Linked DNA regions of Homo sapiens: region 1 is linked to region 2. The links come from fine-mapping of genetic effects on gene expression. A gene starts in region 2. The other region holds a variant in brackets. All regions are shown on one strand. Distances are from middle to middle.

Region 1 (16,351 bases), 120 kb after region 2:
CTTTCAATTCTATTCCACTGATTGAATTTATGTTTATGTATATTGTTCTTCTTTTTCAATATTTTTTATCTACTTTGGGTCTTTTGTAATTCTGTTTGAATTTTAGGATCTGTTTGTCTATTTCTTCAAAAAAGGAAACTGGAATTTTTATAAGGATTGCAATGAATTTTTTTATCAATTTGAGAGCACCACCATGTTAACAACATTAAATCTTCTAATCCATAAGCATGGAATATATATTATTTATGTTTTCTTTAATTTCTTTCAACAATGTCTTGAAGTTTTCTGTGTAGAAGCCTGGCACTTCCTTGATTACATTTATTTCTAAGTATTTTGTTCTTCTTTATGCTATTGTAAATTGAATTGTTTTCTCATTCTCCTTTTTGTATTGTTTATTGCTAGTGTATAGAAATAGAATTGATTTTAATATACTCATCTTGTATACTGTGATGTGGCTGAACTAATTTATTAATTATAGTAAGCTGTTGTGGGTTCCTTAGGATTTTCTCTACACAAGATTATGTCATTTTCAAACAAAGTTTTATTTCTTCCTTTCTAATCTAGATGTCTTTTTTTCTTGCCTAATTGCCCTAAATAGAACCGCCAGTACTAGCTAGAGGTGTTGTTGAATAGGTGTGATAAGATCACACATCCTTCTCTTGTTCCTTCTTCTAGGAGGAAAGCTTTCAGTTTTGTATATGTCTTTTATGTTTACCTATGTCATTACCTTTGCAACTGTTCTTTATTTCTTCATATGATCTCTTACTAGCATTCTTTCATTTCAGTCTGTAGGACTTCTCTTAGTATTTTCTGTAGGGCAGTTATGCTAATAATAAATTCTCTCAGTTTTTATTATCTAGAATTGTCTCAATTCCTCCTTCATTTTTGAAGGATACTTTTGCTGGTTGTAGAATCCTTGACTGACAGCCCTTTTCTTTCTGCATTTTGAGTATATCGTTCCAGTGTCTTCTGGCCTCCATGGTTTTGAGGAGATATCAGCTGTTAAACTTATTGAGGATCCTTTGTCCTTAATGAGTTGCTTTTCTCTTGCTACTTTCAAGATTCTCTCTTAAGTTGTTGTTGTTTTATCTGGTCTTTGACTTTTGACAGTTTGATCATCATGTACCTAAGTATGGATGTCTTTGAGTTTATCCTACTTGGAGTTTGTTGATAGCAAATGTGATGCATTTGCAACCGTATATTTTCTCCATGGAAACACTATTTTCTATTAGCCATCTCCACAGATCCCTGAAGGTCAAGGCCCTTTGGCCATAATTTCAACCTTCCTGATTATTATAATAATAATAACTACTTTGCTTCTGATTATTAAGTGCTGCCAAATAGCTTCTGCTGATTCAGAATCCTATCATTCCTATTGCTATTAGGGAACCAGTATATCCAGTATATAAGGGCATCTGCTGTCAGCCTCCGTCTACAGAGGATGAACACTACTGAGATTCTTACAGCTTCTAAACTCCTCATCACCAGCACATTCATTATTTCTTTGGTGAAAATGAGTATTATCCAGGACTTCCCAAGGAATAGAGTCTGGTGGTGGATTTTCCAATCTTTTGTTATAGATCTATTCTCCCACATCCATTTCTCTGAGAACTGTGAACCCTTTACTCACAATTTTCCATATGAGTTCTGACATCTCAACTTTATTAATAGAAGCTCTTGTTGTTTTCCAGCTTTCCAAAAGCCACCCCAGTATCATTTCATATCAACCTCCTAAGAATAAACTTGCTAGGGTGTTAAATCCTGTGTCCCATAAGAATGCCCTATATTGACAAACTCCTACATCCAGCTTTCTATTTTTAGTCCCCTCCCTTTGATCCAGGATCTTCAGAATCTTCTCTCTGATTTATTTTCCTTGCTCCTGATGACACATGTTGTCCAAGTCTTGAAGCTCCTTTAGTATCTAATCCATCCCTCTCCTTAGTAAGTCAAGTACTTCCCCAGTTGGGCCATGCTAAGATTTGATTTTTGTTATGGGTCTAGTGGCCAAAGGGGGAGGTGCAACACATCCTGAGGGGAGCCAGCATTTCCTTACAATGAATTTGTCTAGTGTAAGACTTTTGCAAGGTTTTCAAGCAAGAGTGGGCCTCTATCTTCCAATAAAAAGTGTGAGCCACTTCTGCAGGTCCAAATGGTCCAGAATAATCTGATGATCCAAGGACCTCAAAGGGCATCTATCTAATATCACCATCCCATGTCTCAGGGTCTTATTCTTTCCTATTGAGGTCCTGGTTTTGGTACTAGAAACTTCCCTAGGCTGAAAAATTTGAACTTCTCTGTAGTTATGCCACTCTTAAAGTTAAATATTCAGCCTGGTCTCTCTGCCTTCAGGCAACGAGAGATAAGGGTCTCTTTAAATGTTGCCAAGAAGGCATTGTAACTCTTATATTTTGCTTTAAATTGATTACTTATTGTCCTGAGCCTTTCATTTTTTTCTCTTTAAGGCATCACTGAAGCTCAGTAATAGCCACCTAATTCCATAGTCCTTTATTTTATTTTATTTTGTTTTGTTTTATTTTATTTTTGAGACAGAGTCTCACTCTTGTCACCCAGGCTGGAGTGCAATGGCGTGATCTCAGTTCACTGCAACCTCCGCCAAGTGATTCTCCTGCCCCAGCCTCCCGAGTAGCTGGGATTCCAGGTGCCCACCACCATGCCTGGCTAATTTTTGACTTTTTAGTAGAGATGGGGTTTCACCATGTTGGCCAGGCTGGTCTTGAACTCCTGACCTCAGATGATCCACCTGCCTCAGCCTCCCAAAGTGCTAAGATTACAGGCGTGAGCCACCACACCTGGCTCCATAGCCCTTATACTTGCAATTTGTCTTATATCTCTTAAATGCCAGACACATTACATCAGCCAGTGAATCTAATTCCACCTGTGTCCTAGCCTAGTTATTCCGAGTAAAAGTCTTAACACTTGCACTGCTAAAGCAAGTCAGAAACTATGCCTGCCATCAACATGGCTGTCCCCCTTGCCAGAGGGCTGACAAGTAACCCAGCCCTAGAATCCCATTCTTATGTTGTGCTTCCTAGGACCGCTCCTGGTACCCACTGTCTTAGGTTTGATTCCTTAGAAGCAGAACTTAAAAGAGACTTGAATACATGTGATTTTTTAGGTTGGACTCACCAGTAAAAATCTCTAAGGAAATAGAGGAAGCAGAAAAGGTAATGTAAAAAAAAAAAAAACTGTGCCAAATGTGATCTCAGGTAAGGTTTGAACTTGATCTTGTCCACAGGGGACCCTGAAGCATAAATCATACCACAGATTTTATCCACTTGAGGTAAAAGGGCTGTTCTTTTGTACTCCAATAACATTCAGTCATTGGCATTGGGATGCCATCGGGGAGAGGAAGAAATCATATTATCCCGGGTGAAGCCATCTCTTTTTTTTATTTTTATTTTTTTTGTTTGAGATGGAGTCTCACTCTGTCACCTAGGCTGGAGTGCAGTGGCATGATCTCGGCTCACTGCAAGCTCCGCCTCCCGGGTTCACGCCATTCTCCTGCCTCAGCCTCCCGAGTAGCTGGGACTACAGGCGCCTGCCACCATGCCCGGCTAGTTGTTTGTCTTTTTAGTAGAGACAGAGTTTCACCGTGTTAGTCAGGATGGTCTCGATCTCCTGACCTCGTGATCCGCCTGCCTTGGCCTCCCAAAGTGCTGCGATTACAGGCGTGAGCCACCATGCCCGGCCAAGCCATCTATTTAGAAAAGGAGAGAGTTCATGAGCCAATAATAGCCACCATTAACAACAGCCTGTGAGTGGGCATGCCAGCCCAGAAAAGGACATCTAGACAGGGCACCAACAGTAGATAAGAATGACAGTAGCTTTCTTGTTGGAAACAATATAAGCTAGAAGACAGTGGAAAAACATGTTTAAAGTAATCAAAGGAATAAATTGCCAATGTAGAATTATATACCCAGCAAAAATATTTTTCAGGCCAGGTACGGTGGCTTACACCTGTAATCTTAGCACTTTGGGAGGCTGAAGTGGGCAGATTGCTTAAGCTTGGGAATTCAAGACCAGCCTGGGCAACATGGTGAAACCCCGTCTCTACAAACAAAAAAATACAAAAATTATCCAGGTGTGGTGGCACACGCCTGTAGTCCAGCTACTTGGGAGGCTGAGGTGGGAGGACAGCTTGAGCCTGGGAGGTGGAGGTTGCAGTAAGCTATGATCACATCACTGCACTCCAGCCTGGGTGACAGAGGGAGACCCTATCTCAAAAATATTTTTTTTCAAAAGCTGAGGCAAAAATTAAAACTTTTTAAGATATATAACAGTTGGAAGAATTCATCTCCAGAGTGAATGAAAAAACATATATGCACCATGATAAATGGTAAAGGAAGTCCTTTGAGCTAGAAGAATTTGAAACCAGATAGAAACCTGGATCTACGTTAGAGAATAAAGAACACCAGAAGTGGTAACTATGAGGGTAAATATAAAGATTATTTTTGTTATTATTTAAATCGTTTTAAAGATAATTGATAAAGATAATTAACAAGGACAAACTTAAGAGAATATAGATGATAGTCGTGAAAAGGCACTTCACAGAAGAAATCCAAATGGCCAATGGACAAATGAAACGTTTCCAGAGTCAACCCTTCCCCACTTTATCTCTAAAGATAAAGACAAAGATAATCTTTCACTTAAAGCGAAAAGATAACAATGTATTATGGGGTTTATAGCATATATTGAGGTAAGATATATGGTAACAATTATATAAAAGCCAGGAGGGAAGAAATGGGAGTATACTGTAAGGTTCTTACAATGTGTGAAGAGTGCTATAATATCAATTGAAGTAGACTAATAACATGAAGATATAAACCATAAGCCTAAAATAACCCAAAAAGGGTTATAGTTAATAATACAAACATGGAGGTAAAAATAAAATTATATATAAATATATGCTCAATCCAACAGAAGGTAGAAAAAGAGGAAAGGGGGAACAGATCAAACAAATGGCACAAATAGAAAACAAATAGCAACATGAGAGGTTTAAACCTAACCATACAAATCATCACATTAAATATAAATGATCTAACCATTCCAATTTATAGGCAGAGATTAACATATTAACTTACAAAGCAAGACCTAACAGTATGCTGCCCAAAGATAACTCACTTTAATTATAAAGGTACAAGGTTAAAAGTAAAATAATGGAAAATATACCATGCTGACACTAATCAAAAGTAACCTACAGTGACTATATTAATATCAAAGTAGATTTCAGAGCAAAAAATATTACCAGAGATAAAGAAGATATTTGATTGTTACAAATGAGTCCATTTATCAAATCCTAAATGTTTACACACGTAATAACAGAGCTTCAAAATACGTACAGCAAAAATTAATAGAAATACATGGAGAAATAGACAAATTCACAAAATAGTTAAGGAGCCAACACCCATCTCTCAAAAATTGATAGGACAAGTAGACAGAAAATCAGTAAACAAATAGAAGGCTTGAACAATACTATAAGCCAAATTGACCTAATCAACAAAATTGACAATAGAACATTCTACGCAACAATACATTCTTGTCAAGAGCACACAGAACATCTACCAAGATAGATCATGTTCTACACCATAAAATAAGCCTGGATACATGTAAAAGGATTTAAGTGATACAATATATGTCTTTGATCACAATGGAATTAATAGGGATGGTTTCAGTG[C/CAT]ATATATATATATGTCAAAACATCACATTTTACATTTTATGTGCAGATTTTTGTATGTTACACTTTGCTAAAGCTGCTTTTAAAAATATATATAAAGAGCATGAAAAAGCAAGCCTTGTTATCAGGGATATATAAAGAACTACAAATCAATAACAAGGACAAACTTAAGAGAATATAGATGATAGTCATGAAAAGGCACTTCACAGAAGAAATCCAAATGGCCAATAGACAAATGAAACGTTTCCAGAGTCGACCCTTCCCCGCTCTGCAAAATCACTTCTCAAGAAGAAGCCACAGAGTCAGGTGTGTTCAGCACATTTTTGCTCACAACATGTGATTATATCCTTGGAAACCAAGAGTTGTGACCCCACCATTCTGGGTTACACAGATGGTCTAGCCAGAGTGACCAAAGTCCTTGTCTAAATGTCTGAAGTGGGAGTGGAAAGTGGGGAGCTGCCTAGGACCCAGGAAATAGGGGACATTTTTCAGTTGCATGAGTTTCTCCTGAGTCCTCAATGGCTCCATTTATAAATGTCCCTAACCCTGGGTCAGTGTGGGTATCGGGGGAGGAGACTAAAGTTGGTGATGGGGATTGGGGGGATGGGGATTCTGCCTAATTATTTCTAAGCTTCTGACAGCACCCTAAAGCACAAAGACAAACTTCTCTTTCACAATTATTTTCTGAGGATTAATGCCAGAAAAGAAGCCCCCAAGGGTAAAGGGAGCTCTCATTCCACTTCTTCTATCAACAATGCCCTCTTTGTCTCTCTCCTTCCCACCAGACAAGACCAGCCTCCTCCCACAGCCATACGTTGACAACACGTGCCAAGGCCTGGGGCAACAGGGTACCCAGGGTGAAGGGCTCACCCAAGAGTAGGGAGCGAAGAGAAATGTGGAAGCTCAGCACCTCTGTGCCCCAAGAACGATGATGAAGTGGCGTCATTTGTCTGGAGTAATACCCAAGATTCATTGCCTCACGCCAAGGAAATCAAGAAGGTGGAGACGCACAAGGAGGAGTTTAAGATTGGAGGTTTAATAGGCAAAAGAAAGAGAAAAAAGAAAAGCTCTCTCTCCTGCAGAGAGAGAGGGACTTCCGAGTGGGTCTTCCGGTTTTGTGGTGAAATGCACGGGGGGGGGGTTTTATAGACAAGCTTGAGGAGGCAGTGTCTGATTTACATAGGGCCCGAGAGATTAGTCAGACCAGGTGTGCCATTTGCATAGCGCACCAACAAGTTGGCCATCTCACCTTAACCTTTTATTATGCAGATGGGGTCTCTACTTGGCCATCACCACGTTGCCTGCTTTTTTACTGCAAGCGTGTTGACAAAGGAAAGGGAAGAGGGCACCTCCATGTTGAATATACCTGGCTTCCAGGTGTCCCTTTTCTATTGGCACAGCTGTTGGCATTTACCTATGCAAGCTTTTAGCTTGCTTATCTATGCTTGCAGCTTAATTTTTCAGGCTGCTTATTGTTAGAAAAGAAATTATTTGGGGGCTGCTTTTCATTAAAGGGAAATCTTACCACGGACTCTCTTACCCTCACTATCTGCCTAAATAATTTTTTTCTAGCTCCTGTATCAATGACAGAAGGGATCTTTCTTCTCCCTCCCTCTTTTCCACACCTGGGTGCATCTACCTGGTTTGGGGGAGGGTGAGCGACACAAGGAACAAAGGTTGAGAAGGAATCAGCAGAAGAAAAGGCTCAGAACTGAAAACAAAGCATCTTCCACAGAGTCAAATATAACAGCACAGGGCCTAGGATACTGTGTGACCTAGAGAAAAGGGAGCAAAGCCAGCCTTGGGCCCATCTTTCCGCAGAAATCTGGAAGAAACAAAACTATAAACTGGTGAGGTCTTAAGAGTGCACAGGTTTTAAATCTGTAATATTGACCAACAGTCAGCAAATACATTTCTTTCTCACCAGTATGGCAATGATTCAACTGAGCAACAAGTTGAAATCAAAGAACTGGTGGTACGGAGGCAGCATCCTGGTTTTATTCCATGCTCATCCCTTCCTGTTCATGCCTGGATTTTTTTAACTCTTTTTCTTTTTCTTTGTGAAACAGGGTCTCACTTTATCATCCAGGCTGGAGTGCAGTAGCACGATCTTAGGTCACTGCAACCTCAACCTCCAGGCTCAAGTGATCCTCCCACCTCAGCCTCCTGAGTAGCTGGGACAACAGGTGTACACCACCATGCTTGGCTAATTTTTTTTGTTTTTTTGTGTGGTTTTTTTTTGTTTGTTTGTTTGTTTTGAGACGGAGTCTAGCTCTGTCACCCAGGCTGGAGTCCAGTGGCGTGATCTCAGCTCACTGCAAGCTCCGCTCCCAGGTTGACGTCATTCTCCTGCCTCAGCCTCCCGAGTAGCTAGGACTACAGGCGCCCACCACCATGCCTAGCTAATTTTTTTTTTGTATTTTTAGTAGAGATGGGGTTTCACTGTGTTAGCCAGGATGGTCTCGATCTCCTGACCTCATGATCCACCCTCCTCAGCCTCCCACAGTGCTGGGATTACAGGCTTGAGCCACTGCGCCCAGCCTTTTTTTTTTTTTTTTTTTTTGTATTCTTTTGTAGCGCCGTGGTCTCACTATGTTGCCCAGGCTGCCTGAATTTTCTAATAAATTCTCCTTCCTGTACTTTCTTTCTTTCTTTTTTTTTTTTTTATTTTGGAGACAGAGTCTAGCTCTGTCACCCAGGCTGGAGTGCAGTGGTGCCATCTCAGCTCACTGCAACCTCTGCCTCCCAGGTTCAAGTGATTCTCCCGCCTCAGCCTCCCGAGTAGCTGGGATTACAGGTGCCTGCCACCACGCCCAGCTAATTTTTTGTATTTTAGTAGAGATGGGGTTTCACCATGTTGGCCAGGCTGGTCTCAAACTCCTGACCTCAGGTGATCCACCCACCTCAGCCTCCTGAAGTGCTGGGATTACAGGAGTGAGCCACCGCGCCCAGCCTCCACCATGTGCTTTCTAGCATATAATGGCAAGTCTTTCTGCCCATATGAGCATGCAACACTAGAAAGCTGACAGGAGAAAAAAGGCTGGACATGAAGAGCATGTGGGCAGCTCTTGACCCCAGTTGCCAGGTCCTCCTTCTTGACTTCTTGCTGCCCCACAGTAGGACTCTGCAGTTCACCCCCACCGCAAAGTCCTCTACATTTTCACAAGTCCTTACTTAGTGACTTTCTCTACACCAGAATGTTTAGGCCCAGTGAAGTCCTCCCCAGGTTTCAGGCCACTGCCCACCCCAGCAATCAGGCCTTCTTCCACTATGGTTTTGAATGCAGGAAGGCTGAGTCTCTGGGATCCTGGAGCCAGGTGGTGGGGATGGAGGATAGGAGAAGATCCAAGTTCAGAAAGTCAGGAAAGAAATCTTGTGGGAATGTGAATTAATTCAACCATTGTGGAAGACAGTGTGGCGATTCCTCAAAGATTTAGAACCAGAAATTCCATTTGACCCAGCAATTCCATTACTGGGTATATACCTCAAAGGAATATAAATAATTCTATTATAAAGATACATGCACATATATGTTCATTGCAGCACTATTCACAATAGCAAAGACATGGAATCAACCCAAGTGCTCATCGATGATAGACTGAATAAAGAAAATATGCTACATATACACCATGGAATACTATGCAGTCATAAAAAATAATGAGATCATGTCCTTTGCAGGGACATGGATGAAGCTGGAAAACCATTATCCCCAGCAAACTAACGCAGGAATAGAAAACCAAACACTGCATGTTCTCACTTATAACTGGGAGCTGAACAATGAGAACACATGGACACAGGGAGGGGAACAACACACACTGGGTCCTGTCAGGGGAGGATGTAGGTTAGGGGAGAGCATTAGGAAAAAGAGCTAATGCATGCAGGGTTTAACACCTAGGTGATGGGTTGATACGTGCAGCAAACCACCATGGCACACGTTTACCTATGTAACAAACCTGTACATCCTACACTTGTACCCAGGAACTTAAAAAATAAAATAAAGCCAAGCACAGTGGCTCCTGCCTGTAATCCCAGCACTTTGGGAGGCCAAGGCAGGTGGCTTACCTGAGGTCAGGAGTTCAAGACCAGCCTGACCAACATGGAAAAACCTTGTCTGTACTAAAAACACAAAATTAGCCAGGTATGGTGGCACATGCCTGTAATCCCAGCTACTTGGGAGGCTGAAGCAGGAGAATCGCTTGAACCCGGGAGGCAGAGGTTGCAGTGAGCTGAGATCGTGCCATTGCACTCCAGCCTGAGCAACAAGAGCGAAACTCCATCTCAAAAAAAAATAAAATTAAAATTAAATAAAAAAGAAAGAAATCTTCATGGTAACCTTGAAAAACATCGTAGACTCTGCCAAGGAGAGAGAGGGCCAATGCACTGAGGACTGTGGTTGGAAGGTAGAAACATGCTGTTTTCACAAGCTCATGGGGCAGCCCCAAGCAGGTGTGAAAAGGAGGATTAGCAGGAAGAAAATATCAAAGCCCTGAAGGAGAGATCAAAGGTAAAAGTAGAAATGCACAGACATTTCCCCATTTCCCAACCCCACAACACATCTGCTTCCTCCTTCCCCATCATTCTCTCATCTTCTCTCCAGGCCTCAGCTCACACAGGAAGTGATAGCAGAGTCACTTCTTATCCAGGCACCCCTGACCTCTCACCTCCACACCCAACTCATCTGAGGATGATCCCTCTTAGAAGGTATCAGACTTAGGGCTGGACATGGTGGCTCATGCTTGTAATTCCAGTGCTTTGAGAAGCCAAGGCAGGAGGATGCTTGAGGCCAGGAGTTCCAGACCGGACTGGGCAAAAGAGCAAGATTCCCACCTCTACAAAAATTTAAAAATTAGCTGGGCATGGTGGTGTGCACCTGCAGTCCCTGCTGCTTAGGAGGCTGAGGCAGGAAGATCGCTTGAGCCCAGGAGTGAGACTGCAGTGAGCTATGATGGCACCACTGCACTCCAGCCTGAGTGACAGAGCGAGACCCTAACTCAAAAAAAAAAAAAAGAAACTAAGAAAGAATCAGGATGGTGGCTCTGCTAGTCACTACCTGCTTGACAATGAGCAAGTAACTTAATTCTAGGCTGCATTGCATCAATGAGTTGTGAGAATTCAGTGTAGCAAAACCAGCCTATATGAGTTTCCTGAGGGCAGGGAAGATGTGCCTCTTGATCTTCCCTGAAACCCCTTTGCCAAAGACAATGTTCAGCATTTAGAACTTGCTTGGTAAATAGAGCCCATAGTTTGCAGTCCATGCTAGCTACTCACAAATTGTTGTTTTCCTTGCCACAGACTGTGAGAACTACACGGAACCCTAAGGAGCTACTAATCCAGCTGACACACGTGGAAACTGACTCAGACTAAGTGATACATACAGGCCATATGGACTACCAGACACAGGGCAAGACTAGATGCTGGTTCCTCAGACCAGGTGAAGTGCTGATACCAAGGCATGCAATAAGGGGTAAAGGGTGGAATTAGAGAACAAAATGCTGAGAATCTGGCTCCAGGAAGAGAGATAAGAAGGTAGCCTGGACTGTCTCCTAAGCAGGAGTGATTAAAGCACGGGGAACTGGGAAAGAAGAAGTTATGAGTTACAGGGATGATGGGCACTAGGTATTTACAGTAGACGGGATTTATTAAGTACTGTGTACCAGGTGCATGTTATTTCTTTTATTTTACCTTAATTGTTTTAGAAACAGGGTCTCACTCTGTTGCCCAGGCTGGAATGTGATGATGCAGTACAGCTCACCGTGATCTCAAACTCCTGGACTCAAGCAATCCTCCCACCTCACCCTGAGTATCTGGGACTACAGGCATGCGCCACCACACCTGACTAATTTTTTTAAATTATTTTTTGTAGAGTCAGGGTCATTAATCATAATGCTCACTATATTGGGTAAAATCCTTATTAGGAGTTACTCTTTTAAAAAATCAGATGGAGGAGGTTGAAGCTCTAAGCCCAGGTTGCACTGATCTCAGAAAGTGGGATTCAAGGAGAGGAAAACAATGGAGAATTATTACAAATGGATGGTAGGGATGGGGACACCAGGAATTTGGGATGAGGATGCTAAAAGTAAGATAAATGATGGCCAGGCACAGTGGCTCACTCCTGTAATCCCAGCGCTTTAGGAGGCCAAGGTGGGCAGATCACCTGAGGTCAGAAGTTCGAGACCAGCCTGACCAACATGGAGAAACCCCAACTCTACTAAAAATACAAAATTAGCCGGGTGTGGTGGCGCATCCCTGAAATTGTGGCTGCTCGGGAAGCTGAGGCAGGAGAATGGCTTGAACCCAGGAGGCGAAGGTTGCAGTGAGCCAAGATAGCACCATTGCACTCCAGCCTGGGCAGCAAGAGTGAAACTCCATCTCAAAAAAAAAAAAAAAAGACTAGAAGTAAGAATTCTACAATCATTAGACTGGGCAGATGAACTCTTAAGACGGGAAGAAAAGTTGCAAAACGTTAGAGCTTTAAAATAATTTTACTTGGTTTTGGAATACTTATGAATGTCATGTCTGGTTCTCTTACTATTTACAATATATCCAAAGAAACTGTTTACTGACTTCAGCGGCTGCAAATCTGATTTTTCTCTTCCAGCCCACTCATAGGCTCCTTCTTGTGGCAAAACATGATATTACTCCTAAGACTCAAACACCAACCTAAGCACAAATATCTGGCAAGTGAAGACATTAAGAGTTTTGTTTTATTTGCAAACTGTGCATCTGACAAAGGTCTAATAGCTAGCATCTATAAGGAACTTAAACAAATTTATGAGAGAAAAACAAACAACCCCATGAAAAAGTGGGCAAAGGAGAGGAACAGACAGTTCCCAAAAGAAGACATACAGGCGGCCAACAGACATATGAAAAAACTCAACATCACTGGTCATTAGGGAAATGCAAATCAAAACCACAATGAGATACCATCTCATACCAGTCAGAATGGCTATTATTAAAAAGTCAAAAAATGACAGATGCTGGCAAGGTTGCAGAGAAAAGGGAACATTTTCACATTGTTGCTGGGAATGTAAATTAGTTCAATCATTGTGGGAAGCAATATGGCGATTCCTCAAAGAGCTAAAAGCAGAACTACCATTCGACCCAGCAATCCCATTACTGAGTATATACCCAGAGGAACATAAAGCATTCTACCATAAAGACACATGGGCCAGGCGTGGTAGCTCATGCCTGTAATCCCAGCACTTTGGGATGCCAAGGCAGGCAGATCACCTGAGGTCAGGAGTTCAAGACCAGCCTGGCCAACATGATGAAACCCTGGGCTCTACTAAAAATACAAAAGTTAGCTGGGCACAGTGGCTCACACCTGTAATCCCAGCTACTCAGGAGGCCCAGGCAGGAGAATCATTTAAACCCAGGTGGCAGAGGTTGTAGTGAGCCAAGATTGCACCACTGTACTCCAGCCCGGGTGACAGAGCTAGACTCCGTCTCCAAAAAAAAAAAAAACAAAGACACATCCACATGAGTGTTCATTGCAGCACTATTTACAATACTGAAGTGCCGAGACCAGCTCGGTTGGGGAGACCCTAACCCAGCGGCGCTAGAGGAGTTAAAGATGCACACACAGAAATATAGAGGTGTGAAGTGGGAAATCAGGGGTCTCACAGCCTTCAGAACTGAGAGCCCCAAACAGAGATTTACCCACATATTTAGTAACAGCAAACCAGTTATTATCATTGTTTCTGTAGATATTAAATTAACTAAAAGTATCCATTATGAGAAACAAAGGGATGGGCCAAATTAAAGGAATAGGTTGGGCTAGTTAACTGCAGCAGGAACACGTCCTTAAGACACAGATCGCTCATGCTATTGTTTGCAGCTTGAGAATGCGTTTAAGCGGTTTTCCGCCCTGGGCAGGCCAAGTGTTCCTTGCCCTCATTCCTTCATTCCTGTAAACCCACAACCTTCCAGCTTGGGCGTTAGGGCCATTATGAACATGTTACAGTGCTGCAGAGATTTTGTTTATGACCAGTCTTGGGGCCAGATTATGGCCAGATTTTGGGGGGCTTGCTCCCAACAGTGAAGACATGGAACCAACTTAAATGCCCATCAGTGACAGATTGGCTAAAGAAACTGTGGTACATATACACCATGAAATATTATGCAGCCATAAAAAAGAACAAGATCATGTCTTTTGAGGGAATATGGATGAAGCTGGAGTCTATAATCCTTAGCAAACTAATGCAGCAACAGAACACCAAATACCACACGTTCTCACTTATAAGTGGGAGCTAAATGATGAGAACTTATGAACACAAAGAAGGAAACAACAGACACTGGGGTCTGCTTGAGGGTGGGAGGAGGGAGAGGAGCAGAAAAGACAACTGTTGGGTACTGGGCTTAATACCTGGGTGATGAAATAATATATACAACAAACCACGATGACACATGTTTACCTATGTAACAAATCTTCACACGTACCCCCAAACCTAAAATAAAAGTTTTAAAAAAGAGTTTTGTTTTCAAAATCCTTTCTTCCTAGGAGGTTGCAAATTTTACTGAATAAGAATAACCAGGGATGGGGCCTGGCACGGTGGCTCATGCCTGTAATCCCAGCACTTTGGGAGGCTGAGGCAGGTGGATCACCTGAGGTCAGGAGTTCGTGACCAGCCTGACCAGCATGGAGAAACCCTGTCTCTACAAAAAATACAAAAGTTAGCAGGGCATGGTGGCACATGCCTGCAATCCCAGCTACTCAGGAGGCTGAGACAGGAGAATCACTTGAACCCAAGAGACGAAGGTTGCAGTGAGCCGAGATTGCATCATTGCACTCCAGCCTGGGTGACAGAGCGAGACTCTATCTAAAAAAAAAAAAAAAAAAAAGTAGTTCCTTGGAAGTTAAAGGTTAAGCTTAAGGACTGATTCAAAGGCAGGTGCAAAAAATAAACCCTCTTTTGTAACCCAGAACTCATTTTTCAGTATGAGTTTTGATACATATAAGAAGGAAAGCTAGGCATGGTGGCTCACACCTGTAAACCTAGCACTTTGGGAGGCCGAGGCGGGTGGATCACGAGGTCAGGAGATCGAGACCATCCTGGTTAACATGGTGAAACCCCGGCACTACTAAAAATACAAAAAATTAGCCGGGGGTCGTGGCGGGTGCCTGTAGTCCCAGCTACTCGGGAGGCTGAGGCAGGAGAATGGCGTGAACCCAGGAGGTGGAGCTTGCAATGAGCCGAGATTGCGCCACTGCACTCCAGCCTGGGTGACAGTGAGAGGCTCCGTCTCAAAAAAAAAAAAAAAAGAAGGAATATGATACCTGAGATAGTTTAAAATAATGGAGGTATTGATAACCATAAAGGTTGGTTCCAGGACTGTAGGGTTGATCATTTAAAAGCATAGGACATAAGGAAAATCTCAGCTATGTTGATTTAGTATTCCATTGGAGGTGGAGCTTGCAATGAGCCGAGATTGCGCCCCTGCACTCCAGCCTGGGTGACAGTGAGAGGCTCCGTCTCAAAAAAAAAAAAAAAAAGAAGGAATATGATACCTGAGATAGTTTAAAATAATGGAGGTATTGATAACCATAAAGGTTGGTTCCAGGACTGTAGGGTTGATCATTTAAAAGCATAGGACATAAGGAAAATCTCAGCTATGTTGATTTAGTATTCCATTGGAGGTGGAGCTTGCAATGAGCCGAGATTGCGCCACTGCACTCCAGCCTGGGTGACAGTGAGAGGCTCCGTCTCAAAAAAAAAAAAAAAAGAAGGAATATGATACCTGAGATAGTTTAAAATAATGGAGGTATTGATAACCATAAAGGTTGGTTCCAGGACTGTAGGGTTGATCATTTAAAAGCATAGGACATAAGGAAAATCTCAGCTATGTTGGTTTAGTATTCCATTGTCATGCTTACATGATATGTCAAGACAGCTTTTCTTAAAGGCTTTTACCTTGAGAACATGATTCCTAGAGTTGTAATGGCATATCCCACAGATTTGTACTATGCTTGAGTGTGATTCCTCAGGAACGAATATGATTTGAACTCATTCACGTTTAGAGAGGGTGTCAAGTTGAAAACCAGGCAGATTCACTTACCCTAAAAATGACTCTAAAGTAAAATGATTGAAGAAATTAGATTCCAAAGATTCTGGGTGGAAATTCTGAAGTATATTTACATTCATGTGGACATAAAAGAGGCCAAAATTCAAGAACTGTGGGCTGACAGGAGAGCTGTGGATTAAGCACCAGTTCTATTAAAAGGGAGGCTGGGCACAGTGGCTCACACTTTTAATCCCAGTGATTCAGGAGGCTGAGGTGGGAGGATGGCTTGAACCCAGGAGTTCGAGACCAGCCTGGGCAATATAGCAAGACCCCATTACAGGTATGAGCCACTGCACCTGGCCTCATCTTTTAATTAGCATAAAGCCCTTAGTTCCTACAGCTTTGCTCCACAAGAGTGAAGTCAACGCTGAGCCTCAGCAGGACATCTCTTCCCACTGTGGGCCCCGAAGCTTAGTGAAGCTAACTTGCTGGCCTCTGGAGAACCAAAATCTGTGTCTAGAAATGGTTCCAGCAACTTCTCCACACCCCATGATGAAATAGATTACTGGGCTTTTTCCTGATGTGATGCAAGATCAAATACACTTTGCATAATTCAGATTTTAGACTACACCAGCCAAAACCACAAGGACACTGTGC
Region 2 (16,351 bases):
TGTCCAGGCCATCTGCTCTGTAACTTTAGACTTTTAGTGCTAATCAGGCCTATTTTTCTTATTTGTTTTGAAGATGAAAGACATAATGGAGGGGAAGTTGCTTAAGCATTGAATGCTACAAACATAAATTATCATTACTGATCTGTTGGGGCTCAGAAGAAAACACTTGAAAATAGGACACTGTGGCAAGCTGAGTACTTTGAACTAAAGGGGACTGGAGGATCTCAGAAATGGCCTCAGAACTAAGGTCTCTCTGACCTTCTCCTGCCTCCCATACTTTCCCTCCAAAAGTGCAGAGAGGGGCTTTCTCTGAAGTTCCTTTATCTGACTAAGGAAAGACCTGCCAGAAAGAATGCAATTGTCTTTAGCACCTCCAAATAATATCAACAAACAGAATATTAACTTACAGGAAAGAAGTAGAAAGTTGATAATACTTATTCTTTGGAGCACTGCTACCTGACACACTTTATCTCCATAATAAAATAACCTTTGTTCATCATGCATTTTCTCCCCTATCCTTCCATAGCTTGTGTCACCAACTCCCCACCAGAAGTCTTTAAATTTTTAGTAAGTCACAATGCTATTTAAGCTTCAACCACCTGGTCATTATTTAGTCTTATATATTGTGAGTCTCCAGTGTGTATGCATTTCATAAATGTGTATGCATTTTTTTTGAGACAGAGTCTGGCTCTGTGACCCAGGCTGGAGTGCAGTGATGCAATCATAGCTCACTGCAGCCTAGAACAACTGGGCTCAAATCATCCTCCCACCTCAGCCTCCTGAGGGCTCAAATCATCCTCCCGCCTCAGCCTCCCGAGTAACTGAGATGACAGGTGCTGTTAATCAATCCATTGTCAGGTTCTCAGACTCAAACATTAAGCCTCCAGAGGAACTGAAGTTTTCTCTCCCCACCTCCTACAGTTTTGGTGAGACAACCAGGAGATAAAGTCACTCCGCAGCTTCTGAAGCTACAGTTGAGAGACCCTGAGACCTGATGAAGCTGGAGAAAGGTAGGAATCCTTACCCAGTCTGTCTCCTGGATCTCTGCTTGTGGAACCAGGTTGAACAAGTGGTAATATCACTACTAGTCTCATGTTTCTTTCCAAACTTAGATTAGTAGTAGAAAACCTTTTTGTAAACTTGTTCTTGGTATACATCTAGTGTTTTTATTTTTGCTATGAGTATTCTGCATTTCTGGTCCCTGCCCCTTCAGAGATGGTCTTTGCTTTCCTTTGTCTTGTTGTCATTTGTCAGAAAGAGGAGAATTGTAGGGCAGAACATGGGCATAAGGTCTTTTTATAAGCCTGTCATTTAAGCCCACCAAGCAGACTGGTGACTTCATATTTCTCAGCAGACCAGCATCTGTTTAGGCAAACTTTGCAGTGTATCTCTCAGAAAAAAATCAAATGAGATCTTCCTTTTGTCTATTTGTATGTCCTGAGAAATTGGCTTTGTTGCCAAGTGAGAACATCTCTCTCTGGTCTCTGTTACCTGGGGGTCTGATTTTTGGTTCCCATCTGGCTGCTAGTCAAAAAGGCCAGGGACCCATGACATGAAGTAGAAAGTAGCATTCTCTTTGTCTGACCATGCCAGCTCTTAGGGGAGTTAGTCTTAAGAGGCTCAAGTCCATGAGGGCTTTTGTCATCTCAACCTTCACCAAAATGAGTGACTGAAGCATAAGTCTCAATCACCGAGGATTATTGAGCCAGCTTAAGTGCATGCCCAGGAAAAATGTAAGTCACACATGCATCTGTGGCTGGTTTTTTTCCAAAGAGGTTCTCAGAGATTTAATATTTATACATTTTCCTTTAAAATGGTGGGGGGGTGTTATGAGATGAGTGATTACATACTTGTGAGACTTTAGTTAGTGCCTTGTCATATGATAAGGTGAACATTTAAAGAAAAAGTAATAGAGGAAGTAGATATCTCAGGGAAGGGTGAGGGAAGGATTAATCTCATCTTATCCTTACCCTGTACCTGGAAGGATAAGCTCATAACTGACAATATTGGTGTGGAATCTTTTGAAGGGGCTGCTTTCTTTTTCACCTTTAGGAAAGAAGGTCTAATGACAGTGAGCAATGGAGGGGGTATAATGAGGCATGCTGGACCTCCCTTTTCCTCATGCCCTGGAATTCAGTTTTTCAGGTTCCTCTGGGGTCCACTTAGCCAACGGTGGGTCTGTTTATTTGGTGGAGGGGGCTTGGGATTTTGTTTTTGGTTTACATTCTCCTTTATTTGGGCCAAGATTTTCCAGAGCCAACATCAATGGCAGACTTTTATTTGGTCTCATCATTGCTGTAATGGTGTGGCTGTCTGCCCCAAGTCCACCCTGTCCCTCCATGGGGCTCTTATGGCCAAAGGACTTAAAGCCAAAAGACTAATCGCTGATTTATATGTTCTAGGCCAGACAGGAATAGAGGTGGGAAGGCATTCATCAATCCTTAAAATCTTTTTTAAGTAATATAAGAGCCAAAAAACAAAAGTCAAAAGACTTTTGTCATGAAAGGCAAGGTTACAAAATAGACTTATCTGTAAGTTATATGCACTGAGCTACTATAATCTAGGTTTTAGTTACAGACTTGTAGCAATTAGCTGTATAAAACTTGAGCATTTTGTTAAAACCATTTAAGCTAAGAAATTTAGAGACTCTGGTTGTCCTGCAAAGTTTCTTGTGGTCTCTCTAATATTTGTCCTAAAGTGGTCAGTACATTTATTTTTATAGATCTATTTGCATAAATTCTATAACTGGGAACAAGTGTACAAAGGTTATTGATGGCAGTGGCTGCTCCAGACAGCCTGCCACTGCCATTACGCTGGCTGCAGCAGGGAGGTGGGCGGGGCTGCACACTCCATGGAGCCCTGCCCAAGTTGGGGCAGGAGCTCCCTGGGTGCTGCTGCAGCCACCCAAACCACAGCTGCAGACCCAGGCCTCCAGCTCCATGGAGCAGGCAGAAATCCTCCCTCACCCACCCCTACAACCCACCCCACCTTTCCTCACCCCCATCCCCCCTACCCTGCACAGCTGCAGCCACCCACCAGCTGCAGACTCAGGCATCCCTGCACTCTTGGGGGCCCAGGAAGGCCCCCCTACCCTCACAGGCTCCAAAGTGCCTGCTCCTGCTCCCTGGCTTCTCCCTGCTGTCAGCACCCTCTCCAATCTCATAGCAAAGTGAGGCTGAGCCCTGGTGCCAAGAATGGAAGCAGGAGGCAGACAGATTCCCAGGTAGAAGTAGGTGGGTCCCCAGTGAGGCCCCACCTTCAGGTCAGGGAGGGCCTGAAGGCTGGTGGCTGGGCTGCCAATCCCATTGACCAGACTGGGAAGTTGTGATTCTTTTTCCAGCCCTTCCATGGCTGCCCAAGGACCGATCAGTGCACACTTCCTCCCCTCTAGGGCCCATAAAAGCCCCAGGCTCTGCTAGAGCTGAGCAGACATCAGGTGGACCAGCTGCAGAAATGAGCTACCCTCTCTGCTGATAGCAAGAGACATTTAGACAACCAGCAGCAGAGAGGGGCTACCCACTCTAGGGCCTCCTCTCTGCTGAGAGCCTCAGAGACCCGCAGAGACATGCAGACTACCAGCTGCAGAGAGGAGCAACCCACTCCAAAACCCCCTCTCTGCTGAGAGCTGCAGAGATGACAGGATGACCTACCTGAAGAGAGGAGCCTCCCAACCCAGGGTGTCTTCTCTGCCAGGAGCTGAACACTGATCGGGACACCCTGACTGTGGAAAGTAGCTACCCTTTGTGGGTCTCCTGTGAGCTGTTCTATTGCTCAATAATGCTCCTCTTCATCTTGCTTTCCCTCCACCTGTCTGCATACCTCATTCTTCCTGGTCGAAGGACAAGAACTCAGGACCCACTGAATGGCAGAGGTAAAACAGCTATAACATAAACAGGGCTGAAACATGCCCCTTGCTCACCACGTTGCAGGCAAAGAGAAGGAGAGAAGAGCCACAGTCCTTCAGGGAGCCCAGACCTGGAAGCTCCCCAAAACAGGGTTGTGACTCTTTGGTATCCTGCAGTGCCTGGTGTCTCCAAGTTTGCAGTAACCACTGCATTCCCCAGTGCTGGCTGGGGAAACTGCTTGCAGTGCACCTGGTCCAGCCACAGCCTCACAGAGAGCCAGTGCCTGTGCCGGCACCTGGAGCTGCCTGTCACTGCAGCGGCTGTAGTGTCTGACTGTGCAGTGGCCTGACCCCACATTCATTCACACACCCCTCATGGCTCCATTCCTAACTCACCCTTGGCAGGCATGGGATCCAGGCTGGTAGTGTGGACTGTGTGCAGCTTGCCAACCCAAGTGGGTGGAAGAAGCCCAGCAAGTCCGAGCAAAACTTGGGCAAAGGTGCCACTGGCCAGAGGTTTTAGGCCATAAAAGCAACACCTCAAGGATCCTATAACATTATTGTGATGTCTTCTCCATAATTTTCTTATCTTTTTATGGAAATTTCTTGATTAGATTACTGAATTCAGGATGGAGCTCTTAAATAGAGTGATGAAAGCTTTTTTTCCCTCTTTTTTGAAACAGTCTATCTCTGTCTCCCAGGCTGGAGTGCAGTGGTGTGATGTCAGCTCACTGCAACCTCTGCCTCTCGGGCTCAGGTGATCCTCTGGATCACCTCAGCCACCCCAGTAGCTGGTATTACAGGCATGCGCTACCATGCCCAGCTAATGTTTGTATTTTTAATAGACATGGGGTTTCATCATGTTGGCCAGGCTGATATTGAACTCCCGGCCTCAAGTGAGTCACCTGCCTCAGCCTCCCAAAGTGCTGGGATTACAGGCGTGAGCCTCCTTACCTAGCCAAAGAAAGCATTTTAATGTTTGGCTGTACTATGAATAATTCTGAAAAAGAAGTCAGTCTATTTTACCTGAGGATCTATCCTTTATAAACATTTTAGGCTTTGATTTTTTAAAACTGAAGGTACCCTTTTGAGTGACACCAAAACCAGTAAGTTCAGGCCTGTTGATATGTGACACTGGGTAGGTTCTCCGGGGATTGGACTTTCCCAGGACTAACCAAGTCACAAGGGTTAGGGAAGCAAAAGACCCATAGGGATGGGGCTTCTTAAGAGAAACTCCCCCGAGAGCTGGACATGTGTAGAACAACAGGTGTGTTCTTCAGAAGCACCAGCTGCTCAGTCCGCAGAGCCAGCTCCAACAAGTGGGCTTATAGGGGTTTCAGGCCCATGTTCTACACTCCTGTAGCCCCTTTTATGACAGAACAGCACAGAAATACAGGAACAAAGGAAAAGACTATTTCTAGAGGAAAAGGGGATCAAACGATGTGAGTATTCATAAGAGAAAGTACTAGAGAGTACCCTAGAGTTGCTGCACCCAGCACTAGTAACACAAATCCTTTTCTCCTATTTATTAAGATTTTGCAGAGGAGACAAAGAGCAATTCTTAACATCTGCCCAAGTGGATCTCCCAGAAAGAAAGGCCAGGAGCTTGTCTGGAAAGAAATTCTTACTTTTCTCAGCCAGACATGGAGGCATGTGCCTGTAGTCCCAGCTACTTGGGAGACTGAGATAGAAGGATCACTTGAGCCCAGGAGGCGGAGATTGCAGTGAGCCAAGATCACACCACTACATTCCAGCCTGGGTAATAAAATGAGACTCTGTCAAAAAAAGAAAAAGAAAAAAAAAGAAATTCTTACTTTTCTGCTGACTTACAAGTGCTTGGGCTCCCTTCACTGAGGCTTCTGAAAGAACAGAGTGGCTTTGGTATCCTGCTCATAGGGACAGAACTGCTGAGGCCAAGAAAAATGTTTGTCCTTTCTCCTCTGAAGGTTTGTTAACAACAAAAAAAATCACCCACAAAGGAGATTAATGGGAGAAATAGCATACATATTCATTCATATGTTTATGGAGGAGAAATACAGAGTGATTCCCCCTTCTTGAGAAACAGTAAGTCTCAAAGAAAGAGACTTTCTTTCACCCCCTTTTATCCAGGGGTAAGAACAACTAGCTGAACAAAACTGACAGCTGTCAATCAAGTGGGAAGTCCAAAACTCATGAGAGACCCACCCAGTTTTCAATCATCATGAAGGAGCCAGGGGCTCAATGGCCCCTGCTGGTACCAAGTTGCCAGGTCCCTGCAATGTTCCAGACAAAGACAGTGATGGTAAAAAGGGAAAAGTGGAGGTAGAATGCAAGTGCAGCAGCAGGAAGATATGGGACTCTCCATTTTAGGGTCTTCAAGTTTTTCAGATTTTCTGAGACATGGGTTAACTCTTCAGGTTAGTCTCCTAGTAAAACACAGCCAAAGTCCCAATTGTGTTTGAAACTTTCAAAAATGCAGATTGAAAGAAAGCCTCTTACTGTCTTTGAGAAGTCCAGACTCCTCTTATCCTCATTGCATGCTTCGGAGTTCAATTTAGGTGTATCTCTCACATCCATTTCTGTCGAGCCTTTACCTTTAAATTTTAAACTTGAAAAACTGCCAGAGTACCTGATAGTGATTGATCAGAGACAGAGCCACCGAATTACCCGATGGCAGGCCTTAGAGACCATGGCCTTAGGACCTAGGTTATGCATAGCCCTCACCTTAGGAAGGGGTCCCTTCAAGGGCAAATAAAATGCGATAGTCCTTGCAACACTGAAGCATGGAGTATCCTGTGAGGCATGAACTTGCTTGATGCAGCATGAATGCACCCCAAGAAACATGGGCATGCCCCTCCAAGTGCAAGCATACCCCACAAGTGGGTAGCCATAGAGCCAGAAGGGCAGGTTCCCTGAAAAAAATAAAGACCTCAAGACCTCATCCTAAATGTGAGATCTTGGATGTAAGAGGATTTACTGATTTTTCCACAAAACAGCCAGGCCAGGAAGATAACTGAGCTTAGAGGACTCTTGCTGGTGCCAATGCATTGATTAGTCCAGATGACAAGGGAGAGGATCTTGAGAGCCAATTTTGATCCCTTCCTCATCACCAGGAAATATGAGTAAAGATTGTGGGATCTGTGGAGGACAGAGGGAGAGCTTCATTTTCTATAAAACACAGTCTGCAGATTGAGGAGATGCAGCCTCGGAGGTGGAGAGCTATAAAGTCAAAAACCACAGAGCAGGATAGAGGAGTCAGAGGAGTGAAGAAAAGAGTCTTGATTAGACAGCCTTTAAGCCCCAAGTCACATGTCTCTTAATTGGCTGTTCCTAGGTGGTCAGTTAGTTCTTACCACATGATCTGTTGGTGAGCAGTTGGAAAATTCCCAGGTACAGATTTTTTCAGAAAATGTTATTTGACTTGGCTACAGAAAAATAGGTTTTGCAACACTTACTAAGAACACAGAGAACATGACCATCACCTAAACCTGCCATGGCCTCTTGGGTTTGTTTTTGCTTTTGAGGCACAGGGAGTCCTTCTTGTCTGTTTACCTGGAGGCATGATTTGGCAACCTAGATAACAAACAGAGATAGGCTTTCTAAAAAGAATTATTTTTATTTGGGAATAAAGCATTGCAATGGGAATATGCGTGCCAAGGTAAACTATGTGCTTATTCAGGTAGGTAAAGTAAGACAAAGTTTAAAAAAATAATGAGAAGGATTACATATTTGTTTTGGAATGATTATCCTTGGCTATAAAGATCAATAACAAGACTGACATCAGTTTGAGGTTGGACAGGCAGTTGCTGGGCAGATGTTCTTGCAGAAGTATTTTTCTTTAGGTTCCTGAGAATCTATAACCTTTGGGCTTACCAATAGCAGTGACTGATTTGTTTACTGATTGTTCACAGAATAGGAAATCAAAGGAGGCCAAAATAAGGACAGCCATAATTATTTGCCAATTGTCAATTTGAAAAGGGTACCCAAATCCCTCCATATGAGGAGTAGCATAAGTGGCTTTTCTACTGGCTGCCGCTGTAGACCCACCTCCTTCTCCAGCACATAAATATCGCTGTTAACATTAACTAAATCACCTCTGGGCAGAGAAACAAAGCTCTATATGCACAGCCCAGCAAAGAGCAGCACACAGCTGAAAGAAAAACTCAGAAGACAGAGCTGAAAAAGAAAACTGGTGATGGATCTCATTCCAAACTTTGCCATGGAAACATGGGTTCTTGTGGCTACCAGCCTGGTACTCCTCTATATGTGAGTAACTATGCAGGCATGTTTGCTCTTAACTCTAAGACCTGAAGTGCTAATTGGGCCCATCTTTTTCTTATTTGTTTTGAAGATAAAAGAGATAACGGAGGGGAAGTTACCTAAGTGCCAAATACTGTGAACACATAAAATATTATTAATATGTTAGGACTCCTAATACAACATTTGAAAATGTAAAATTTAGTCTGGGTGCGGTGGCTCACACCTGTAATCTCAGCACTTGGGAGGTGGAGGCAGGCCAATCACAAGGTCAGGAGTTCAAGACCAGCCAGACCAACATGGTGAAACCCCTTCTCTACTAAAAATACAAAAATTAGTCAGGCATGGTGGCACACACCTGTAATCCCAGCTACTTGGGAGGCTGAGGCAGGAGAATCGCTTGAACCCAGGAGGCAGAGGTTTCAGTGAGCGGAGATTGCACCACTGCATTCCAGCCTGGGTGACAGAGCAAGACTCCGTCTCAAAAAAAAAAATAAAACTTTGTCATACTGAGTAGTTTGAACTAAAGAAGACTGAAAGACTTCACAAATGTCTTCAGAATCTCTGACCCTCTTCTGTCTACCCATCCCCCATTCTTTCCCTCCTGAAGTGCAGGGTTGCTCTGAAGTTCTCTTATCTGACTAAGGGAAGATCTTCCAAAAAGAATGCAATTGTCTTGAGCCTCTCCAAATAATCTCATCAATCAGAAAACTAATTCACAGGAAAAGAGAAAAAGTTTGATAATACTTATTCTTTGGAGCACTGCTACCTGAGAGACTTTATCTCCACAATAAAATAACCTTTGTTCATCATGTGTTTTCTCCCTTCACCTTCCCATAACTTGTGTCAGAAACTCCCTATCAGAAGCCACTCCCTACTTTTTAGCTTACAATGCTATTTAAGCTTTACTCATTCAGTCCTTATTTTAGTCTCATATATTGTGGGCCTCCAGCACATATGCATGTAAAATTTTGTATGGATTTTCACTGTAACCACCCAAGAGATTCACCTTGCCCCCTGCCTCAACAGAGCCCATTCATCAAGACAGGGGAATTGTAATAGAGAATGAGTTAATACATGCTGCCAACAAAAAGAGCCAAACTCTGTACAATACTTGAAGAGATTTATTCTGGGCCAAATATGAGTGACCATGGCCCATGACACAGCCTTCAGGAGGTCTTAAGAACATGTACCCAAGGTGGTCAGGGTGCAGCTTGGTTTTATTCTTTTAGGGAGGCATGAGATATCAAATACATTTAAGAAATACATTGGTTTGGTCCACAAAGGCAGGAAATGTGATTTTTGCAGAATTCTTTGTGATAGAGCAGACTCCAGAGAAATTGCAACAACTTAAAGTCTTTCAGATCTGGCCCTAAGGAGCTATAGGAGAGAAAAAAAATCTGTCAGATCACCATTGCCTACCTCTACTCCAACTGGAGCTGTTTCAAAACCAACATGTAGAAATCTTTTTGTCTGGCTGCCCTGTGAACTCAGAAACTAGTCTGCTAAATGATTAACTTTTGGTCTCCTTTTGCTTTGGTAGAATGACCTCTTATTAAGTACCTGTTTAACTGCACCATATACAGACCTATCTTTCATGACAGCAGACCTGCAACATCACCTCCTGAAATGAGGCACAGCTGTTTAACTGGATTGACATTGCTAGGAATGTGAGACTGGTTTATACTGGTTTAATGTGATTCCTTGCGACTCAGCTACCAATTCAATTGTCCTCTCCACAAGCATCAACTCAGCTTTAGTATGTACATTTTCTAGGGAAGTTTATGACAGGGGAAAGTTGGGGCTCCAAAAATGAAACCCCAAAATATGGCACTTAAGCATGTTGAGGACTTTGAACCAAAGGAAATTGAAAGGTCTCAGAAAGTCTTCAGAACCAAGCTAACTCTTATGTTCTCCTGTCTCCCAACCCTGCTATTTCTCCCAAAATATAGGAAGGGGCTTTCTCTGAAGTTCTCATACCTAAAGGAAGATCCTCCTAAAAAAAAGCAATGGTCTTGAGCCCCCTCCCTATAATCTCATGAAAAAGAATCTTAGCAGGGCCAGGCATGGTGGCTCATACCTGTAATTCCAGCACTTTGGAAAGCCGAGGTGGGTGGATCACGTGAGGTCAGAAGTTCAAGACCAGCCTGGTCAACATGATGAAACCCTGTCTCTACTAAATATACAAAAATTAGCTGGGTGTGGTGGCAGGTGCCTGCAATCCCAGCTACTCGGGAGGCTGAGGCAGGAGAATCGCCTGAACCCTGGAGGCAGAGGTTGCAGTGAGCCAAGATTGCGCCATTGCACTCTAGCCTGAACAACAAGAGCAAAACTTAGTCTAAAAGAAAAAAAAAAGAAAAAAATAATATTAGCTCACAGAAAGGGAGACTAAGGTTGATAATACTTGTTCTTTGGAGCACTGATGCCTGACAGACATTATAATAAGATGACTTTTGTTTATCATGCTTTTTCTTCCCTCACTCTCTCATGTCTTGTGTCACCCACTCCCCATCAGAAGATACTACATTTTTATAGCTCAGAATGCTATTTAAGCTTCAATCATCAGGCCATTCTTTGAGTATCATATCTTTCAAGGCTCCCATGCATATTCATGAGATAAATTTATAAGGATTATCTCCTATTAATTGATCTACTGTTAGTTCATTTCTCAGACTCAAATATCAAACCTCCATAGAGGAATGTTCTCTTGACCCTACAGATGTTACACAGATCCGTTGAAGAAGTAAATAAACATTATCCACCTCCTCTTCATTCAACTTCCAATTTCTGTTACTAAGAGTGTTTACTGACATCATTCAATCCTGGGGATGCTTTCTGATTGACTATGAGTTTTGATCTACCTAGACTAACAACCAGAATTTAGCATGGGCAGATAATGGATTATAAACAACTGGAAACCCAAGAGGTTATTTTCGATGTGTGAGTAGGAAAAGATCCCCAAAGAGGGAACCAAGCTAACAGCTGGGCCTGGCCAGGGTGCCACTGTGGGGTCCTTCAAACACATTCTCTTCATGCAATTTTTCAGCTTTATCACATTTTATAAGATTTATTTATTTGTACTGAATATTTAGGATCTAAGAAAAGCTAACCTATAAAGAAGAGAAATCAAGTTTCTAATTCAACTGTCTGGAATATTTTATGGTTACTTATGCTATGTAGCACAGTGAAACTTTTCTATCAACAGAAATGTTCCTGAATTTTGGAAGACCTCTCTTTCAGCTGAAAGCACATAAGGGGCATTTAAAACTATTTATGCATACCATAATTTTCAGCCACACTTTCCTAACTTACCCTTATAGGGCCTACTTTGTGGCACCAGCAGTTGCATGGTTACATCGGCGGGATGCAGCCTCTCTTTTTCCTCCAGTCTTCCATCCCTCAGTAACACCAGAGTGGGAAGTTCTGCAAGGATCCAGAACCTGCAATTGATGGAGTTCACACATAACCCATCAAAGATGAGTTGCAGGCAGGCCTGCCATAAGGAGCACCAGACTTAATGGGTTTTCCTGCAGGATAGTTGATGTACAGAAGCAGTAAACTGACTCTGTGTGACTGATCATTTTGAGAAAAAAAAAAAGTGAGCATGACTGGCATTGTGCTTATCAAGTAAGGATCACCAGTTGGAGGGCCAGATTGCACAAGAGGAGGAATGGCCTTGAAATTTATTCTTTAGTCATTGGTTCCTCTGCATAGTGCCATTCAGAGAACATATAGGTCAATCACATTTACTGTAGTTTATATCAATCAAATCATCTGACCACAGAGATTTGGGTGTAGCTGGAAGGTGCTCACATTTCTATGAAGCCAGTGGAAGCCTTGAATATGGTTGTCATTCCATAGAAATAAGAACACTATGATTCTTCCAGAGCTCCTCTGTGCAGGAATGTTTAAGGATGGCCAGATCCTAAAACAAGGTCAGTGTTTAGAGGGAAGGAAAAGCATAAACACCTCTGAGAAAACAGGAAAGAAGGTGTCAGCAAAGGGCCTCAGTAACCCTCTGTAATTCAATGGATGTAGTGATACACAAACTCATTATTAGTTCAAAAGATAAAAAAAAAAAACCTCACCTAGTGATATGGTTTGGCTCTGTGTCCCCAGCCAAATCTCATCTTGAATTGTTATCCCTATGTGTCAAGGAAGGGACCTGGTGGGAGGAATTGGATCATAGGGGTGTTTTCACCCATGCTGTTCTCATGATAGTGAATGAATTCTCACAAGATCTGATGGTTTTAAAAGTGTGGCACCTCGACCAAACACCGCATGTTCTCACTCATAGGTGGGAATTGAACAATGAGAACACATGGACACAGGAAGGGGAACATCACACACCGGGGACTGTTGTGGGGTGGGGGGAGGGGGGAGGGATAGCATTAGGAGATATACCTAATGCTAAATGATGAGTTAATGGGTGCAGCACACCAACATGGCACATATATACATATGTAACAAACCTGCACGTTGTGCACATGTACCCTAAAACTTAAAGTATAATAATAATAGAAAAAAAAACAAAACAACAAAACAAGAAAAAAAAAGTGTGACACCTCTTCTCTCTCTCTCTGTCTTTCTCTCTCTCCTGCCTCCATGTAATACATGCTTTGCTTCCCCTTCACCTTCCACCATGATTTTAAGTTTCCTGAGGCCTCCCCAGCCATGGAGAACTGTGAGTCAATTAAGCCTCTTTTCTTTATAAATTACCCAGTCTCAGGTAGTTCTTTATAGCAGTGTGAAAATGGACTAATACACCTAGAAAGAGAATTTCCAAATCAGGAAAGAATCAATTAACTAAATAGACATACGTGAATGAAATGCCCTGGAAGAATTCCAGTCTGAACCTCTTAAGGGCACTCAAATTTGGGAACATTTATTAAGCATTCACTCTAGCACTGGGATCATGCAGACTTCAGCTGCTTTTAGTTAATCATTGTGACTTTTTGGGGTCTCACAGAGGAGGCAGCAAAAAAGATGAGGATTGAAATGTAGTGGGATTTTAAGGAATCAGAGAGACTGATGGGGTTCAGGAGGATATTTATTAATTATTTAGGTGCACCAGCCCAGTCGGATTAACATCCAGAGGACTGAGCTCTGAACAAAGAGTTTAGTTACCTTTTAAGCATTTCGTGGGAGGGGGGAGATCTGTGGAGAGGGAAGCATACTAGAGAAGTAAGAAACAAACACAGTTATTCAATTGAGAAATGCATTACATCATTTCTTACATTTCAAGGAAAAACACGTTTTGTGACTTGAGTTTATCTGTCTAGTGACCTTGCAGCTGCACAGCTAGGGAAACAGGGTCTTTGCAATGCCTGGGAAGGGAGGAGAGATAAGGCTCACTAGCCTCAGAAAAACAGGCAGTTAGTTTTTAAAAGACTCCAGCTCTTTCTCTTTTTCAGGGGAAGTTGGGTTTTTTTCATATACAACTCAGTTTCTGCTTACGCACTCTTTAATTTCTTTTAATTCCTGTTCCATTGTCCCCTTTGGTGCTTTTTACAACAGAAGTGTTAATAGAAAGCACCACTATTTGCCACCTCCTCGCGGAGCTGAGCTTTTTCTTCTACCGGCAGCAGCTGATATCTGGTTAATGCCACAACTGTGCGGTAGCGTGTCAGGCTACTATTGCCTCTATAGTTGACTGAATACTCCTAATAAACAGGGGTAAAAGGCAAGGGAGGATGAGGCAAATGCCAAAAATAAGCAAGAACTCACTAATGAGGGTTTTGAATTCTCCAAAGGCTGACAACCATCCTCCAAATAAGGAATCCAGGGACCACCTGGACCAAGTCTGAACTAGAACATGTGCCATCTTGCACATTCTAGCTGTGATTTTCATGACAGCTAGGCCATTATCATCGATTTCTAAGCAACAATTGGTTAAATTAAATTTTTCACATACTCTTCCTTCTGAGGCTAAGAGGAAATCTAAAGCCAGCCTATTTTGATATATAGCATTTCTCATTTGTGTTGCTTGTATTGCCAATAAATCTAGTGCCCTTGATGTTTTATTGGTTATAATTTCAAGGACTGCCCGCAACCTTATGATGCAGTTGAGCATATAGATGGGGGTACGGTACCCCCATGACCTTTCTTGCACCTAGGTAGCTGGCCTATAGTATTTAATGATTCTTTCAGGAGGCCATTTGTTATCTTTCCAGTCTCCTATGTCCACATCTTTTTTGATATTTGTGTTTATTTTTGTGATTATGCCTCTTCTAGTTCTTTTATTTTCATCATAAACTGGATATCCTAAGAGTTCCCCTGGCTTTAGAGGAATTAGAAAGAAGGATGGCTTGATTGTTTCTAACACACATTCCCCTGTCCATTTAGTCAGCAGCTGATATGCCTGTGCTCCACAGGTCCAATATAGGCCAGAGGGTGCTTTCTAAGCATTTGGAGCCTCTAGCCGATGCCAAGTGCGGCTTAGAATAGACAGTGGAGGGAAAGGGTTTTGATCTTGTAAGTAGGAGTTGTTCTGGGCATTTCTTCAATAGAGTTTTGTTTTTAGTCTCATCATAATACTGTTGCCCTAGGCAGATTGTTTCTCCTACTGCCCCTGTGAAAGCCTTTCCTCATTGGGCAATACAGTACTTTCCAATTATGGAGGTTTTTAACAACCAAACACTGGTTGAGGCTGTTGGTTCACTGGTAGGGTTAAGCGAAGTGAAGTTATTTTGTGGCATTAATTCCTTTGCCTCCCATGGCCACTGGTCCCCCATATTAGTTCCTCCACATACATAGCATGAGGAAATTCCTAAGCTGCCAGCTATGTTTTCAGCTAGTTGAGCAAATAAGTTTTTGGTTGATGGGGGAAGCTCGGGCACCGGCTGATCAAAATGCTTATAGAATGACTTATGAACCCAGAATTGTGGGGTTGGACACATCTGAGTTCTTCTAGTCTTTTTGACAATCAGTAGTGGAATTCTAAGGCCTGCTCCTTGCCTATCAACTCTTAATAGTGCTGTCTGTCCTGTAGACCAAAAAGGTAGCTCTGGCTTTAAGATAGTAAAATTTAAAGGATTGCATGTCTTTGTCTTACGATCTGGTTTGGTTGACATACTACTTAGCAGAACAGTCTTCCCTGAATATAGGTGTTGGTGTTGTGTCAGTGTAGACCACTTAATGTTACAGTCTGGGCATCCGATTTGTCATTCTCTGTACAGATGTTTAGGACTGCTGCTGATAAGCCTCTCGTGTCAAACCATTGCAGACTGCTTCTGGTTTTTTAGGATTATGAACATATGCGGTATGGTAGGCATCAAAATACAAGGAAATAGGCCTGTTATAGAGGGGAAGGGCTTCTTTGGTTTGAGCTATAAGCTCTCCTTCTTTTTCTCCCTCTGATTTAACATGTACCTCAAGCCAGAATTCATAGGGTGAGAGCTTAGGGTCATAACATACATATAGCTGATTATTTCCTGGGTCACAGACTGAATAGGTGGTCTGGTTGTATGTGCAGGTTTCTAACTTGGTTCCTGCACATTCATAGTAGTTATGGTACAGTAGAGTTTTGACTATGGTATTCCTTACCCAGGTAGTGTGTACACAGTGTGGGCATCCTTCTAGAGATTTCTCCCCTTTTAGTGTAGGCAGAAATGGTAACAACATTAGCGTATGTAATAGAAACATGCTTACACTACACGTGGGAATGGCAAACCTTCCTCTGGGCATAGACATTTGCAGCATTTGCAGTAATAACGTAACAACAGAACAATCAGTACTGACAGAATTATAACTAGGCTTGTAAATTGTATCCACATTTACTTATCCAGAGATGGTACTCTTAGCTTCGGCTGTGCATAGACTAGTCAGCTTCCGAGATGTAACTAGAGCAGAGCTTGCAGGAATCCCCAAAGATCAGCCGAAATCAATTATTCAGGCCCCACCTGAGGAAAGGGAATGTCCATCCCCATGTGTGCCAGTATATCTGTCTTTGGTCAGAATAAGGCAGGAAGCAGAGTCAGGAGCACCCGAAAAGTCAGGCTTGGAAGAAAGTGAGGCTCAGTCCTTTGGATGTTAATCTGACTGGCCCAGTGTACCTAAATAATTAATAAATATCCTCCTGAACCCCATTGGTCTCTCTGATTCCTTAAAATCCTGCTATAAAATGTAATTATTGCCATCAGAGTTTCTGTTGTTATTTATTGCCTCCATGTTACCTCCCTCCCTTGAACATTCCAGTTCCTGAGGTAATGTCTGGCCAACCCCTTATCTATAAAGTTACAATTTCTGTAACCTGGCTTTCTCTTTTATTTT

Which allele goes with the higher level. Positions count from the first base shown, and alleles are read on the strand shown. Sizes are in standard deviations (SD) of each study's normalised expression.
In carriers of allele CAT in region 1, the expression in skeletal muscle of the gene that starts at base 7,916 in region 2 tends to be higher than with C alone (large effect, 1.1 SD a copy in GTEx).

Evidence for each region.
Region 1: its variant is fine-mapped to the expression of CYP3A43 in skeletal muscle (GTEx, PIP above 0.99).

What each region holds. Positions count from the first base shown.
Region 1 is chr7:99,937,498-99,953,848 of GRCh38, forward strand. LOC124900245 (small nucleolar RNA SNORA40) reads left to right here and starts at 14,536; the gene lies at 14,536-14,661. RefSeq lists enhancers at 6,461-7,316, 8,174-9,029. The variant C/CAT (reference allele first, on the strand shown) is at 5,696.
Region 2 is chr7:99,820,098-99,836,448 of GRCh38, forward strand. CYP3A43 (cytochrome P450 family 3 subfamily A member 43) reads left to right here and starts at 7,916. Exons shown (of 13, transcript NM_057095.3): 1 at 7,916-8,089. The coding sequence starts at 8,019.